Homo sapiens: one gene and its partners. The protein of the gene in region 2 interacts with the protein of the main gene of each other region in a biochemical or structural test. Each region holds a gene or a part of one and is shown on either strand. Other genes may lie near its edges.

Region 1 (3,977 bases), on a different chromosome or scaffold from region 2:
CAGAAATCTCTACTGTCTGGCAATTCATGGTTAACTCTTGGGAGCTCTCCCCATTTGTTCTCAACATTTTCAGAGGTTCTGCATGTCCCGGACACTAGGTTAAGTAATAAGGATGACCACATTAATAAGATATGGACCCTCAAGGAGTTTATTCTGATGGAGAGGCAGACAAGTAAAGAGATAATCAAAACGAATCAACTACAAGCAGTTTGGTGTCACTGGCTTATGGAGTACAAGGCAGGGAGTGGAGATGGACAGGGGCCACCTCTCAATCTCTTAACTCATTAGCACTCTTCATAATGCAGAATGCTTGAGGAAATAGTTGCTGATACAACAAATGGAAAACATGCAGAGAAAATGACCATGAAAACTGTCAAGAGGATTCTAGAATGACACCCTCTCTCACCTCCAAATTAGGAATCTTGTGCCGAAAGCAGGTAATGAAGACCACAAAAGGCCAGTCGTCAGGCTGCATCATCACACCGGCAGCCTGGGCGCAGCTCACATGGAAGGCAGTTGGGCAGCGGCCGTGAGAACACTGCACACAGCAGCCAGCAGTTCTTTTCCTCCGCTTCTTACAGAAGATACATTTCTGTAGCACAGGGGAAGAAAACCAGTGATTGCAGGAACTGGCACTGCAGCTTCCTCTGTTGTTCCCCTCCCAAATGCAAAGCCAAGCAAGCAAGAGCCAGCCCCTTCCCAAAATACAAGGACACACCAGCCTGCTCTAATCCAGGTCTGGTTACAACTTTATCTGCCAAGGAAATTTTTTTTTTTTTTTTTTTGAGACGGAGTCTTGCTCTGTCACCCAGGCTGGAGTGCAGTGACACAATATCGGCTCACTGCAACCTCCGCCTCCCGGGTTCAAGTGATTCTCCTGCCTCAGATTCCCGAGGAGCTGGGATTATAGGTGCGCACCACCACTCCCAGCTAATTTTATATTTTTAGTAGAGTCGGGGTTTCACCATGTTGCCCAGGCTGGTCTTGAACTCCTGACCTCAAGTGGTTCACCCACCTCGGCCCCACAAAGGGCTGGGATTACAGGTGTGAGCCACCACACCTGGCCTCCACTAAGGAATCTAACCACAGAGTGAGAATCACAAACTCTAACCAAAACCAAGGGGTACAGGAGGTCCCTGTTCTCTTCTACCCAGAAACTTGTAAGTCGGGAAATTATGTAGAGTCTACAAGCCCTTACCAGTTTGAAGCGGGGCAGGGGGATTTTGCTCACATCCACCGGACTTCTTTCTGCAATGTTGACAAACCTTGCTTCCAGAATTGCCACAGCACATGAAACGTGGACCCACCTGCCAAAAGGCAAAGGCTCCCTCAGTCACCTCTGGGCCCAAGGCTCTGTGGCCTTCTCTTTTGGGCCTGCTGACAGCGCTTCCTCCCTCACCTGGGTGACCACTGACTTCCACCAGCACATGCCTGGGACCCAGGAAGGTGAGAACCAGAACCGTCTCTCCTCTGAGTATGTGGAAGCAGTGCCACCCCCACTGCCCACCTAGGCCACTGCCCACTGCCCTAGGTTAGCACCGGATCATGCTTCTTACACCACTCTGTTGAAAAATGAACAGAGCTGCAGGCTAATGGTGTGTGGCAGGTCTCAGGGAGTGAGAATAAACTGGAAAGCTCTATGCAGACCTCTTTACCATAGGACCCAAGTGCTTCCTGAAAACGTCCCCGGCTGTGCCCTAATCTGCCAGTAATCACAGCTCTCTCTCGGCCTCTGCCCAAACCTCTCCCCCAGGCTGAAATGACCTCTCCCTTCTGCTCCCTTTTTCCATAGCTGACTCACTCTTTAATCTTTAAGGTCTGACCCAAGCCCCACTTACTCTGAGAGGTCTATTCAACGGACATCCTTAAGAATTAAAGTAAGTTTTGGACATTTTGGGAAACCAGCATGCATCAAGAGGAGAAGAACGAAAATGGTGACAACTCTTAAAACCATGCTACGTGAAAACCTACACCAGACAACACTGGGGCTCCATGGAAGCTCTCTGCAGTTCTAGTGGGGCTGTCTTTTTAGAGTGGGAACAGATTTGTTCTGTGTGGCCCTGGAGGGCAGAACAGGCATTCAGAGGTAAAGGTGAGAGATTCAAGCACAGCCATTTCCACTCCAAATAAGAAAGAATGTTCCCAGCACTATCCTGTGACTGTGAGGAACCCAGTGACCTCAAATAATGGCAGCAAGTGCCTTTGAAGGAGCAGAAGCAGCAGGCAGAGTAGCTATCTCTCAGGGACAGCATAACTGGGACTCTTGAGGGCAGGCGGCTGGACTGAACATATGCTGCAAGTTGCCACGGGATTCTACTTGGAAGCAGGATACTCAGCACTGACCTGCACGCACCATGCCCTAGACAGCTAGCTCTTCCAGGTCAGAAACCTCATTCATCTTACGTTTCCACCTCAGAGCAACCAAACACAAGCCTAAGCACAAAGATTCACTCCATGAAAACGAGCTGCCCAACAGCTGAGAAGCCCAGAAAATTCAGCAGATTCGGTTCCATAGTGGGTGGGCCTGTCTGAGCTCTCCTCAGTGTCCTCCTTGAGCACACTCGCCTCATTCCAAACAGCAGGTCTGAGCCAGGGAGTTTGCCATGTGGAGAAGTGCTTGCTAGCCTGTGGCCGCCTCTGCATACCAGCCCCAGCTGTGACAAGGTGAATGTCCTCACTCCAGCCCACACAGTCCCTGCGCATCATCTTCGTCTTCATATTCTCATGAGTCCATTCTTAGCTTCTCCAAAGGAGGATGTCACTGACATCTCTGCTGCAGAGGAGCAGCTGGAGTTGGAAAGTCTGGGACTGCTTGGCTCCCTTAGCATTCCATTTTTAAAATGAGTCTTGGAGATGCTATTCCTGCTCCACACGATGTGCTTCCCAAATCCTCATCAGTCATTCAGAAGAACAGCTAGTACCCTCACAAAGACACTGTGTGCTTCGGAACTGAGCCTGTGCATTCCAAGGCACTGCTCAGGAAACTTACCTGTCATCATTTGCTCTCTGCAGGGCCCCTCCTCGTAATGAGCATAAACAGCAGTCCTGCCAAGAAAGGAGAGGGAGGAAAAAGTGGTTAATACCAAGTCATTAACATTCAATCTGCTCTCCCCTGGACCTGCTTTGGGCAACTCCTCCACATAAGAAAGAAGCATAATAGCATGTGGGGCTTCACCCAGGCAGCCCCTGCACCAGGACGCCCTGTCAGAAGGAGAGGCCACTCAGGGCTAAAGTGTGCCAAGTAGTCACGTGACTTCACATAATCCTCTTCATTGTTGCTGCTAATAACAACTCTTAGCAAAGTCACAAAAGATACTTTGCTCAAACTAGAGGCATGACAGGGCTCTGACTGCTTCTTATATGGGCTAGGTACAGCCAGGTTCCAGGGGGTACAGTGAAGAGAAAACAGCACAATGAATCATCTGAGCCCCTTTCTGAGGCTCCAATTCAAAATGGCTAAATTCTTTTAAGGGAGTTATTGTTCCTCCACAGGAAGACCACTAGTTGGTCTTTCCACAATGGAGCAAACACAGCATCCAGACTCCGTAAGTGGGCAGCAACCATTCTCACGGTCATAGGATTTACTCTCACAATACTCGCTCTCTGACATCACCGCGTACCAGACCCTATGCAGACTGCTGGGAATACTGAGTCCAACATGAAATCGTCTGGCCCTGAATATGCACCAAGACTCATGGTGAAGACAGTAACAGTGTGGGATCACTCACCTCCTCTAGGGCATTGGCTGAACACCGAGAACACATCCAGTCTTCAGAAGCCTTTGCAGGGGGGACCCCATAGCAACCTAACAGGGACACCAAGATGAGCAAATTAAACCCAGTGGTCAGAGTCAAAAGGTAGATTTGCAATTCCTTTCCATATACCACCTCCCAAAGCTACAACCAAATCTCACAGAAACCCCTTAGTTTTCTTTAGTCTGAGTCCCCAGGGCTCAGGCATACAGTATGGCTCAAAGT
Region 2 (3,977 bases):
GTTGCCCAGGCTGGTCTCAAACTCCTAGGCTCAAGTGATCCACCTGCCTTGGCCTCCCAAAGTGCTGGGATTGCAGGTATGAGCCAACACACCCAGCCTCACGCTTTTTTTTTTGAGACGGACTATCGCCCAGGCTGGAGTGCAGTGGTGTGACCTCGGCTCACTGCAACCTCCGCCTCCCAGGTTCAAGCAATTCTCCTGGCTCAGCCTCCCCAGTAGCGGGATTACAGGCGTCCGCCACCACGCCTGGCTAATTTTTTTGTATTTTTAGTAGAAACGGGGTTTCACCATGTTGGCCAGGCTGGTTTTGAACTCCTGACCTCAAGTGATCTGCCTGCCTCACCCTCCCAAAGTGCTAGGATTACACGCATAAGCTACTGCGCCCGGCTTGTGATTTGCTTTTTTCACTAATGTCTTAAGATCTTTCCAAGTCTGCCTCATGAAAACAAAGTTTATGAGAGAACAGTCATACAATACATGTAAGAATCACAGTACAGCACGGTCACGGGGAGGGGGACACTGACTGGAAAGGGAAAGGGCACAAGCAAACCTTTGTAAATATTCCGTCTTCATCTGGTGGGTGGTTTATACACACACAAAAATTCACCAGAAAGTATACTTAGGATTGGTGCACCGTCTTTTTAAATTTTTTACTTTTTCTTTTTTACCCTGTCTTATGGTGCCGAAGACTGGTGCACTTTAAAATATATGTTTGCTGCTCTGTGGTCCATTAAAAACAAAACAAAAAAATGTGTTATTCTTCTAAAAAGTTTAAAAATCTGTATTACCATGAAAGCCCATATGCTTATTACTTGGTTGAAGGGAAAAGAAATCATTGGTTTGAAAGTCTCCTATGGGGCCTCGTCATCTCCCACCTCATACTATCCTGAGTTTCTTATATCTTACTTTTTAAAACAGATTTGCCACACTTTTGCATCTCTAAACACTTTATTGATTAGTATTGTGTGATTCTGAGCGAGACTCCGTCTCAAAAGAAAAATTTGAAAAGTTGGAATTCTGATTCGAATTGCACTGACTCTATAGATCAGTCTGAGGAGATCTGACCATTTTGTAGTATTAGGCATCTTCTAACCCATGAATATTGTATATTTAATATAATACAATTTTCTCCACGGGTCGTACAGATTTTTATTTTTCTGAGACATGGTCTTGTCTGTTGCCCAGGCTGGAGTGCAGTGGTAAAATCACAGCTCACTGCAGCCGTAACCTCCCAGGCTCAAGTGATCCTCCTGCCTCAGCCACCTGAGCAGCTGGGACTACAGGTGTGCATCATCATGCCTGGTTAATTTTTTAATTTTTTTTTAAGAGATAGGGTCTCCCTGTGCAGCTCGGGCTCGTCTTGAACTCCTGGGCTCAAGCAATCCTCTCGCCTCAGTCTCCCGAAGTGCTGGGATTATAGGCATGAGCCACCATGCTTGCCTCAGATTTTAACACATTTATTTTTAAGTACTTTTATTTTCTGATACTACTATCGACAGAGTATTTTTAAAGTTACATTTTACAATTGACTTTTTGTACAGATTTTATATCTGGCAACCTTGCTAAACTCTTCATTCTAAAAATGTACCTCTGACTTTTTGGGTTTTCTACATAGATAATTATACCGCCTCTGAAGAATGATAGCTGCTTTTTCCTTCCTTTCCAGGCTGATATGTTTTATCTCCTTTTATTGTGTTACTGTGCAGACTAAACTCTCCAGCATGAGTCTGAATGCAGGTGGAGAGTAGCAGGCCACCCTTGCGTATTCCTGACCTTACAAGGGGAATGGCGGGGCGTGGCGGCTCACTCCTGTAATCCAGGCACCTTGGGAGGCCCAGGCGGGAGGATCACTTGTACCCAGGAGTTTGAGGTTGCAGTGGGCCATGATCGCACCACTGCGCTCTAGCCTGGGTGACAGGGCAAGAAAGACTGTCTGGAAAAAAAAAAAAAGGAAATAATTTCGATGTTCCACTATGAAGTATGATATGTGATGTAAGATTTTGGTAGATATCCTTCAACAGGTTAAGAAAGTTTCTTTCTGTTACCACTTCATTAAGAATTATCATCTCGTGTATTTCATATTTATACAGCTAATTGAATAACTTACAGTGATTCATTTTCTACCATTAAACCAGCAATGTATTCCTGGAATTGTCTTTTTAAATACGTTTTCAGCTGCGTTTTTTTTTTTTTTTTTTTTTTTTTTTGAGATATGATCATAGCTCACTGCAGCTTCGACCTCTTGGGCTCAAGCAATTCTCCCACCTCAGCCTCCCAAGTGGCTGGGGTTACAGGCATGTGCCACTGCATTTGGCTAATTTTTTTATTTTGTGTAGAGACAGGGTCTTACTATGTTGCCCAGGCTGGTCTTGAACTCCTCCTGGCCTCAAGCAATCCTACCACCTCAGACCTCAGCCTCCCAAAGTGCTGGGATTATAGGCATGAGCCACTGTCCCTGGCTTTTTTTTTTTTTTTTTTTTAGAGACAGGATCTTGCTATGCTGTCCAAGCTGGTCCCAAACTCAAACTCCCTGGGCTTAAGCAATCCTCCTGCCTCAGCCTCCCATGTAGCTGGGATTACAGGTACGTGCCACAACACCTGGCTGCCCTTTCTTCTTTTCTGATACGGCACGTAAAGCCTTCTAAATACCACTTTAGCCACATACCAGTTTTCATGCATATTTTCAGTTCTGTATTTCCAACAAAATTTACTCTTTAATCAACAAGTTGTTTAGAAATTTTTCTTAATTTTAAAACTATATAATCCTGTTATTCATTTTTAAACTTTTGAATTGAGGTGTAATTCACATAAAATGGAATGCCACATTTTGTTTACCCATTCATTTGTTAATGGACATTTGGGTTGTTTCTACCTTTCGGTTATTTGAATAATGTTGACACAAATATTCATGTACAAGTATTTGTTTGAATACCTGCTTTCAATTCTTTTGGGTACATACCTAGGAGTGGAATTGCTGGGTCATATGCTAATTCCGTTTAACTTTTCAAGGAATCACCAACTGTTTTCTGCAGCCACGATACCACTTTACATTCCTACCAAGCAATGCGCAAGGATTCCAATTTCTCCACATCTTTGTCAACACTTATTATTTTCCCTTTTTGTGGATTATAGCCATCCTAATGGGTATGAAATGCTATATCACTGTGGTTTTGATATGCATTTCCCTAATAACTAATGATGTTAAACATATTTTCGTGTACTTATTGGCCACTTGTACATCATGGGAAAAATGTCTACTCAAGTCCCTTTGTCCAGTTTTTAATTATTTGTCTTCTGTTGTTGAGTTATAAGAGTTTTCATATATTCTAGAAAACAGACTTTATCTGTTTTTAATATTGTTACAACTTTAATCCATCAGTTTCTCAATTTTTGCTTTTAAATCCTTAGTTTTTCTTGTATCTCTGGTAATTTTTTATTTTTATGTATTTCAAAGTATATATTTAGATATATAAAGATTCATGAGTTATAGCCTTAAACAGCATATTGTATCAATATGAAATACTTCTGCATTTTAGCGGTTTTCTCATTTTTACTTTGCACATTATGAGTACTGGCGACACTGATATTGTCACATCTTTTTTTTTTTTTAATAGTACCTCCCTCATTTAACATTCTCTTCTCCTAAGCTTCCTCCCACCTCAAATACAAAATTTCAACAAATCTTGGAAGGAGATGAGTTACCTGCACATATTTCCTCAGTTGAACCAGAAGTCCTTATGTATTTTTCAAGTCTAGACTGTGGTTTTTAAACTTTTCCAACTGTGAGTTACCATGGGAAAGCTGATGTTTGCGTAAAGCCACCAACTCCACCTGGCACCTGACCCTGGAGGGGTGTTGTGGTGAAACTCAATCACGCCACCTTTGTCTACCTGACTCATGCATTTTGTGTAATAGAGAAGAAATGACAAATTGTAAACTCTTTCAGTGAAGATAAGCCTATCTGGGACCCATTTTTT
Region 3 (3,977 bases), on a different chromosome or scaffold from region 2:
TCAGGAAAATGTAAACATTAATTGGATATCTCATTATATTGACACTATTCTTAAATTTTTCTTTTAGGTTTGATTATAATACTTTTTTTAAAAAAAGAATTATGTTTTAGTTAAAAACTGAAATATTAACAGATGAATAAGATGTCTGGGATGCTCCAAAATAATCTAAGAAAGGGGAGTAGTTAGAAATGAGTAAAATTGAAAGTGTTGCAGCCAGATGACGGAAACATGGAGTTTCACTATATTATTCTTTTATACACATCTACAATTGTCCACAGCAAAAAAAATTTTAAAATATCCTCTACATGCTCACTTTTGGCAAATGCAATTTATGGCATGAAAGGGTAAGTTCCAGATGAAATAAGTGATTATGAAAAAGGATTTCCCTAGAATGAGGAGGTAAGATAAAGATGGTAGCTGGTAACAGTTTGGTTACGTATCGCTGCCCAAATGTCATGTCAAATTTTAATCCTCAATGTTGGAGGTAGGGCCTGGTGAGAAGTAACTGGATCATGAGGTGGGTTTCTCATGCATGGTTTAGTACCACTTTCCTTGGTACTGCTATCCTAGCAACAGTGAGTGAGTTCTCATGAGATCTGGTCATTTAAAAGTGTGTGGCATCTTCCCCTTTACTTTCTCTTGCTCCTGCTATGTAGGACATCCCTGCTTCCCCTTCACCTTCTGCCATCATTCTAAGTTTACTGAGGCCTCTTCAGAAGTCAAGCAGATTCCAGTACCACACTTCCTGTAAAGCCTGCATAATTGTGAGCCAATTAAATCTCTTTTCTTTATAAATTATGCAGTCTCAGGTATTTTATAGCAATGCAAGAATGGACTAATAATACAGTGGGGTTAAAAGTAGAAATGGGTTGTTATAATTTTTTTTTCCAAATTCATCCATTCATTTACTCAGTCAACCAAAAAACATTTAAGTATCTGCTATAGACCAGGAACCATTCTAAATGTTGGAGACACAGCAACGAACTAAAAACAAAAAAATCCCTGCCCTCACGAACTTACATTCTAATACAATGAAACAAAAATAAATTACGTTGGAACAAGGTTTCTCATCTTGGTGACATTTTAGGCTGGTTAATTCTTTGTTGTAGGAGTTTGTCAAGTGCATTGTAGGTCATTAGCAGCATCCCTGGCCTTCACCTTCTAGATGTCAGTGGCCTCCTCGAGTTACAACAACAAAAATATCTCCATACATCCCCAAACATCCCTTGAGGGGACAAAATGGTCTCCAGTTGAGAAACACTGAGTTAAAAAGTAAGTGTTACGGAGAAAAATAAAGCATTGAAGGAGTTTAGGAAGTAACCTGAGGGTGACAATGTTTATAATGTTAAATAGGACAGCTGGGGAAGAGTCCTTCAGGTATAGAAGTTTTGAGGCAGAAAGATGAGGGCTTATTTGAAGACCTATGAAGAAGTACAGCTACTGTAGCTGGAACAGAGGAAATAAGGAAGAAAGTAGGAAATCCACAGAGCATTTAATAGGAAACACCTGAGCCATGTTAAAACAATAATAAAAAAATCACCTAGGGGATTACTTCTGGTTGTAGCCAAGTAAGTTCCTGTAAGACTGACCCTCCTGCAGGTAAAATAAACTTTAGGGGGAAAAAATACAAACACACACACAACACACCAGAACTATATGCAGGCAATAAAAAATGAACGAAAAAAGCAGGTAGATTCTTGAGAGAAGTTAAAATGGGGAAGCACGGAGTATCAAGGGTCTAATTCCAGTTTACTGTAGCTTTTAGCCTGAGAGAAGCCATCCCAGGCAGCTAAACCTCCAATGAAACCATCTTTTTGGCCTGAAGAATCAGAATTAGAGTTCAGGGAAAGCAAAGCTGCTAGAAAGTGAGGGAATGCTGGAAAGGAAACAGCCAGAGAGGAGGAGCCCCGAATTCTGTATATTGAAATCTCTGGCTAACCCTTGAAAACCACTCATGTACAGGGCAGATTCCAAGCTGCCCAGCAAAGGAGACCTGAAGGACTCTTCCATGGCTGTCCTAAATGATCAGAAAACTGAGGTGAGATCTGAGTTAACATCCAAAAGACAGCATTTGCAGTTTGAGTCCAGTTAAATTAAATGCCTGATTAAAAACAAAACAAAACAAAACAAAAAAACCAAATCAATGCTCTTTGGAGGAGTATAACATTATTCAGAGTCTCCACAGCATAATATTCCAATGCCCAGAATGCAATAAAAAATTATTTGATACACAAAGAGGAAAATGTGATCCAACCTCAAGAAAATATACCTATCAAGAGAATCCAACCCTGAGATGACTCAGATGTTAGTAGTAGTAGGCAAGGATTTTAAAGCAGCTATTAGAATTAAGCTTCATGACATAAAAGAAATCCATATTTATATTACAAACATACACTTATAACGAATGAAAAGAAATGCCACCAGAGAAAACATACAGAAAAGAATAAGCTGGAGATTTTAAAAGTGAAAAAGGTAGTGTCTGAAATACACTGGGTGGGCTTAGCAAAATGGAAGGGACAGAAAAAACTATCAAAGAATCTGAAGATAATCAATAAAAATTATTCAATTTGAGAAACAGTGGAAAAAATGATAGGAAAAAAAAAAGAGAGCCTCAGGGACCTGTGGGATATCAAGTCTTTATAAATATAAACACCAAGAGGAAAGAAGAAAAAATAAAACAAAAAATATCTTAAATAATAGCTAAGTCTCTCAAAGTTGGTGAAATACATAAATCTATGGATTCAATAATCTCAGCAAACCTTGAACAAGTTAGAACACACACATACAAAAAAACCCATGCCCGGTCACAACACAAAATACTAAAAACCAAAAATAACAGGAAAAGATCTTAAAAACACAGACTACCACATTACATATGGGAGAGAGTGATTTGATTATAGCTGACTTCTTACAGAAAACAGCAAGTAGACAGTGTCATATTATCTTTAAAGCCTATCTGGTCTCTGGCTGGACTCAGTGGCTCACGCCTGTAATCCCAGCACTTTGGGAGGCCAAGGCGGGCAGATAACCTGAGGTTGGGAGTTGGAGACCAGCCTGACCAACATGGAGAAACCCCGTCTCTACTAAAAATACAAAATTAGCCGGGCATGGCGGCACATGCCAGTAATCCCAGATACTCCTGCCTGAGGCAGGAGAATCGCTTGAACCCGGAGGCAAAGGTGGCGGTGAGCCGAGATCATGCCACTGCACTCCAGCCTGGGCAACAAAAGCGAAACTCCATCTCAAAAAAAAAAAAAAAAAGTACATCTGGTCTTCAATCCCATTTCCCTGGCATAGAAATCCTAAATCCTTATAATCTCCTAAGTGGAGACTTTCTGTATGCTAACGAGTTGACTGCTGGCTGGCAGGCCCTAGGTAGCTTCAGGTGTGGGGGGATGGTCACCAGAACCACCAAGGAAAGATTAGAGGGCTGAAACTTTCGGTCCCACCTCCCAGCCTCTGGGGAAGTGAGAAGGGCTGAAGGTCAAGTCACCAATGGCCAACGATTTAATCAATACTGAATAATGAAGTTTCCATAAAAACCAAAGGACAGGGTTTGGAGGGCTTCCAAATGGCCGAACAGGTGGAGGTTCCTGAAGAATGGTGTTCGAGGCAGGGCATGGGAGCTCCCTGCTGCCTCCGCCATATCTTGCCCTACTTATTTCACCAACTGTATTTTGTAGTATTCTTTATAATAAACTGGTAAATGTAGGTTTTCCTGAGTTCTGTGAGCCACACTAGCAAATTAACTGACCCCAAAGAGGCAGTCATGAAAACCATAACTTGAAGCTAGTCAGTCAGAAGTTCTAGAGGCCCAGACTTGCAAGTGGTGTCTGAAGGGGCTGGGGAGTCTTGTGGGACTGAGTCCTCACCCTGTGGAGTCTGACGCTATCTCCAGGTAGTGTCAGAGTTGAACTGGAGGATACCCTGCTAGTGACTGCTGCAGAACTGATTGCTTGCTTGGGGTGTGTGGAAAA
Region 4 (3,977 bases), on a different chromosome or scaffold from region 2:
AGTAGAAACGAGGTTTCACTATGCTGGCCAGGCTGGTCTCGAACTCCTGACCTCAAGTGATCCGCCTGTCTCGGCCTCTCAAAGTGCTGGGATTACAGGCATGAGCCACCATGCCCAACCATGTGATGGGTGAACTTTGATGATAAGAGGCACCAAGTGGTTGATGATGCATCTTGCATAAGGTCTACCAGTTTTGAAAGATGTTTCCTGTGGTTTATTCCTGTTGCAAACATGGACTCCTTTTGGCTCTACTTTCATATGACCTTTGGCCTTTAATGAAGTCTCACCAGTGATGCCCACAGTTGATTCTGCACCAGCATCACCACATTTGAGGTTGACAAGATCTCAGTTCCAGAATTATGCTGCCATTGATCACAAGCTTTCCATTACCATTTTGGAGGGTGCCGTTGCTTTTGTCGTAGATGGGAGTCATACTGGAACCTGTGTGTTACATAGTCAAACTCAGTGAAGAATCACTAATCACTATATTATCCTCTTTACCAGAATAGAAAGCAGGCCTGGTGACCCAAGTGCCCTACTGTACTCAGATTATTAATTCAAGGTTTCTATTTTTATTGTTGCACTCACATGTTTATTCTGACCCTTCACTCTCACGTCATTAATGTAGCTGCAGCTGCACAAAGATAAGCTAGCTAGAGGAACACAGGAGAGCCAAGAGCTGGCTAACAGATTTGTGTCTTTTTCCTTAACATCCAAACTCTTGAAAACAGATTTAAGTAACTTAAAAATGGCTTGGAAGGGAGCAATACTCAGTATGTGTCACATGTATATGGACTTAGACCATGACTGTCTAGCCTCTGTGTTTATAAGTACATAAAATATTTTATTAACTGGTCATAAATGTGTTAAACTAAAAACAAGTGTATCAGATTTTTATTTGTTATATAAAATTACAACATAAAGGAGTAAATTTGAATAACATTTTGAGGAAAAATAAAAATATCTTACCCCCTACTATTGACCAAAAGTGAAGAAACAATACAAGCATAAGACACTATTATTGAGAAATAATTTTGAATGGCATTTTATAGAGCAAAACTTTGTTGTCATTGCCATAATTGATTGCTGTTTAAGATTTCTGGATCTTATAGAACTGAGGCCGTTTGAGACACATATTTGATCCTTATGTGTATATTTATGTATTTTTCTCTTATGTGGGGTTTATGGCTATAGTGTATGTTTTTAATTTCATAGCAGTATATTTTTGGTGTGACATACTGCTTTTGCATTATTTTGAGAAGTAAAACGTATTCCCTTTGTTAGAGAAAATACAAAGGAGGTTGTATTTTCCTGCTATTTGACTATCATCCTATTAACAAATTCATAAAACATGTTCTGGAAGGATGTCAGTGAGTCAGAATATAGAAAAATCCTTAAGCATGTAGTCAGATAGCTGTATGTCTCGATGAAGAGGTTGCTGTCACCTTATATTCAGTCATGAGACAGGCAGCATATTGATGTATAAAATTAACTTTATTAGACTTCTACACCTCCAAGCTTAATGGTGCAACCTTGTTTATAGCTTAGAGTGAAATGGGGAGTGCATTTGGGTTTTGAAATGTAATTATCTGCCAATTGTCAGTAAATTGTTACATTGGAAAAGTTAAATTTTTTGATGACAAAAATTGACAAATGAATTTGGTTATAATTTCTATTTCTGATGAAATGTGTTTTAGGAATAATATTCTGTTTTTACTGTTAGCAATATACTTTTGCTGTTAGAATCAGGAAATCATATAAACTAGGTTCTGTATATGGCATTTATAGTAAATTTAAGGCACTGATTTCAAGATCTGTTTTTAGTAAGATGACAATAAATTATTTAATACTGATTATGATATGGAAAAATCTGTTTAATTATGTTATTATTTGTCTGAATATTTCTCATAAGATGTATTTAGAAAAAGTTACAAGTTTCCCAAAGAAACTGCTATTTGAATGAACTAATAAACCACCAAGATCATACCCAGTTCTACTGTGACACGGTGTTTAGCTTTTTCTAGTAACTGAAATCTAGGTGTTTTTTTTGTTTTGTTTTGTTAATAGAATTCTCCCAGTCCTTGGCTACATCAGCCCACCCCTGTGACCTCAGCAGATGGTATTGGATTACTTAGTCACATTCCTGTCAGACCTTCCAGTGCAGAGCCTCATCGGCCTCTTAAAATTACAGCCCATTCCAGTCCACCATTGACAAAAACTTTAGTAGATCATCATAAGGAGTAAGTTCACCAGTGCTTAAAAATTATAAATACCTTGTTCATAATTTTTCTTAATTTGCCTTTTAAATAGTTAATTTTAAGTTAACACATATCTTAAGATTAGGCTTTGTTCTGTTTTGATATTTCTTCAAATTTATTATAGTATTAGAGTACATGCAAAGATGTCTTTTACTTTCATAATAGAATGATATTGCATAGAAGCTGTCTTTGTATTTTGCAGGAAAAAGTGGTTACAGAAATATTTGTGTATTTTCTTTACAGAGAATTAGAAAGAAAAGCTTTTATGGAACCATTACGGTCTGTTGCATCCACATCAGCCAAAAATGACCTGGATCTAAATAGGTCACAGACTGGAAAAGATTGTCACTTACATAGGCATTTTGTGGATCCAGTATTAAATCAGTTACAGAGGCCACCCCAGGAGACTGGAGAGAGGTTAAACAAATACAAAGAGGAACACCGTCGAATTCTTCAAGAAAGTATTGATGTTGCTCCCTTTACAACTAAAATCAAGGGACTTGAGGGTGAGAGAGAGAATTATTCCAGAGTGGCATCATCATCTTCCAGTCCTAAAAGCCATATCATCAAACAAGATATGGATGTAGAACGCTCAGTATCAGATCTTTATAAAATGAAGCACTCAGTGCCTCAGAGTTTACCCCAAAGTAACTATTTCACTACATTGTCTAATAGTGTGGTCAATGAACCACCAAGATCATACCCATCCAAAGAAGTTTCAAATATTTACGGTGATAAACAGAGTAATGCCCTTGCAGCGGCAGCAGCTAATCCTCAAACTCTGACTTCATTTATAACATCTCTTTCAAAGCCTCCACCTTTGATTAAACACCAACCAGAAAGTGAAGGTTTAGTAGGCAAGATACCAGAACATCTTCCACATCAGATTGCATCTCACTCAGTAACAACCTTCAGAAATGATTGTAGGAGTCCTACCCATTTGACAGTTTCTTCTACAAATACACTCCGCAGTATGCCTGCATTACATAGAGCACCAGTATTTCACCCACCAATCCATCACAGCCTGGAAAGAAAGGAAGGCAGCTATAGTAGTCTTTCCCCTCCAACTTTAACTCCGGTGATGCCAGTAAATGCTGGTGGTAAAGTTCAAGAATCACAGAAGCCTCCAACTCTAATACCCGAACCAAAAGACTCCCAGGCAAATTTTAAGAGTTCTTCAGAACAGAGTTTGACGGAGATGTGGAGACCTAATAATAACCTCAGCAAAGAGAAAACTGAATGGCATGTGGAGAAAAGCAGCGGAAAGTTACAGGCTGCTATGGCATCTGTCATTGTGCGTCCATCTTCTAGTACAAAAACTGATAGTATGCCAGCAATGCAGTTAGCTTCTAAAGATCGTGTTAGTGAAAGATCTTCAGCTGGGGCACATAAAACAGATTGCCTCAAACTAGCAGAAGCCGGAGAAACTGGAAGAATCATTTTGCCAAATGTGAATTCAGACAGTGTTCACACAAAATCTGAAAAAAACTTTCAGGCTGTCTCACAGGGCAGTGTTCCCAGTTCAGTCATGTCTGCTGTAAATACGATGTGTAATACCAAAACGGATGTAATCACATCTGCTGCCGATACTACCAGTGTTTCCAGCTGGGGTGGTTCAGAAGTAATTTCCTCTTTATCAAATACCATTTTGGCCTCTACATCATCAGAATGTGTATCTTCAAAAAGTGTCAGTCAGCCAGTGGCTCAAAAACAAGAATG

What was found. The genes of interacting proteins can lie anywhere in the genome.
Region 1: of the proteins of RNF168 (region 2) and KDM4A, one has a biochemical effect on the other in vitro, tested with the Homo sapiens proteins (one study listed by BioGRID).
Region 3: of the proteins of RNF168 (region 2) and DHX9, one has a biochemical effect on the other in vitro, tested with the Homo sapiens proteins (one study listed by BioGRID).
Region 4: the proteins of RNF168 (region 2) and JMJD1C form a complex in vitro, tested with the Homo sapiens proteins (one study listed by BioGRID).

Annotation. Positions count from the first base shown.
Region 1 is NC_000001.11:43,691,324-43,695,300, reverse strand, and holds part of KDM4A (lysine-specific demethylase 4A), read right to left. Parts: intron 3,806-3,977; coding exon 3,729-3,805; intron 3,046-3,728; coding exon 2,990-3,045; intron 1,308-2,989; coding exon 1,199-1,307; intron 593-1,198; coding exon 407-592; intron 1-406. UniProt on the Homo sapiens protein: Histone demethylase that specifically demethylates 'Lys-9' and 'Lys-36' residues of histone H3, thereby playing a central role in histone code. Does not demethylate histone H3 'Lys-4', H3 'Lys-27' nor H4 'Lys-20'.
Region 2 is NC_000003.12:196,479,503-196,483,479, forward strand, and holds part of RNF168 (E3 ubiquitin-protein ligase RNF168), read right to left. Parts: intron 1-3,977. UniProt on the Homo sapiens protein: E3 ubiquitin-protein ligase required for accumulation of repair proteins to sites of DNA damage. Acts with UBE2N/UBC13 to amplify the RNF8-dependent histone ubiquitination.
Region 3 is NC_000001.11:182,845,522-182,849,498, reverse strand, and holds part of DHX9 (ATP-dependent RNA helicase A), read right to left. Parts: intron 1-3,977. UniProt on the Homo sapiens protein: Multifunctional ATP-dependent nucleic acid helicase that unwinds DNA and RNA in a 3' to 5' direction and that plays important roles in many processes, such as DNA replication, transcriptional activation, post-transcriptional RNA regulation, mRNA translation and RNA-mediated gene silencing.
Region 4 is NC_000010.11:63,207,326-63,211,302, reverse strand, and holds part of JMJD1C (probable JmjC domain-containing histone demethylation protein 2C), read left to right. Parts: intron 1-2,067; coding exon 2,068-2,240; intron 2,241-2,501; coding exon 2,502-3,977. UniProt on the Homo sapiens protein: Probable histone demethylase that specifically demethylates 'Lys-9' of histone H3, thereby playing a central role in histone code. Demethylation of Lys residue generates formaldehyde and succinate.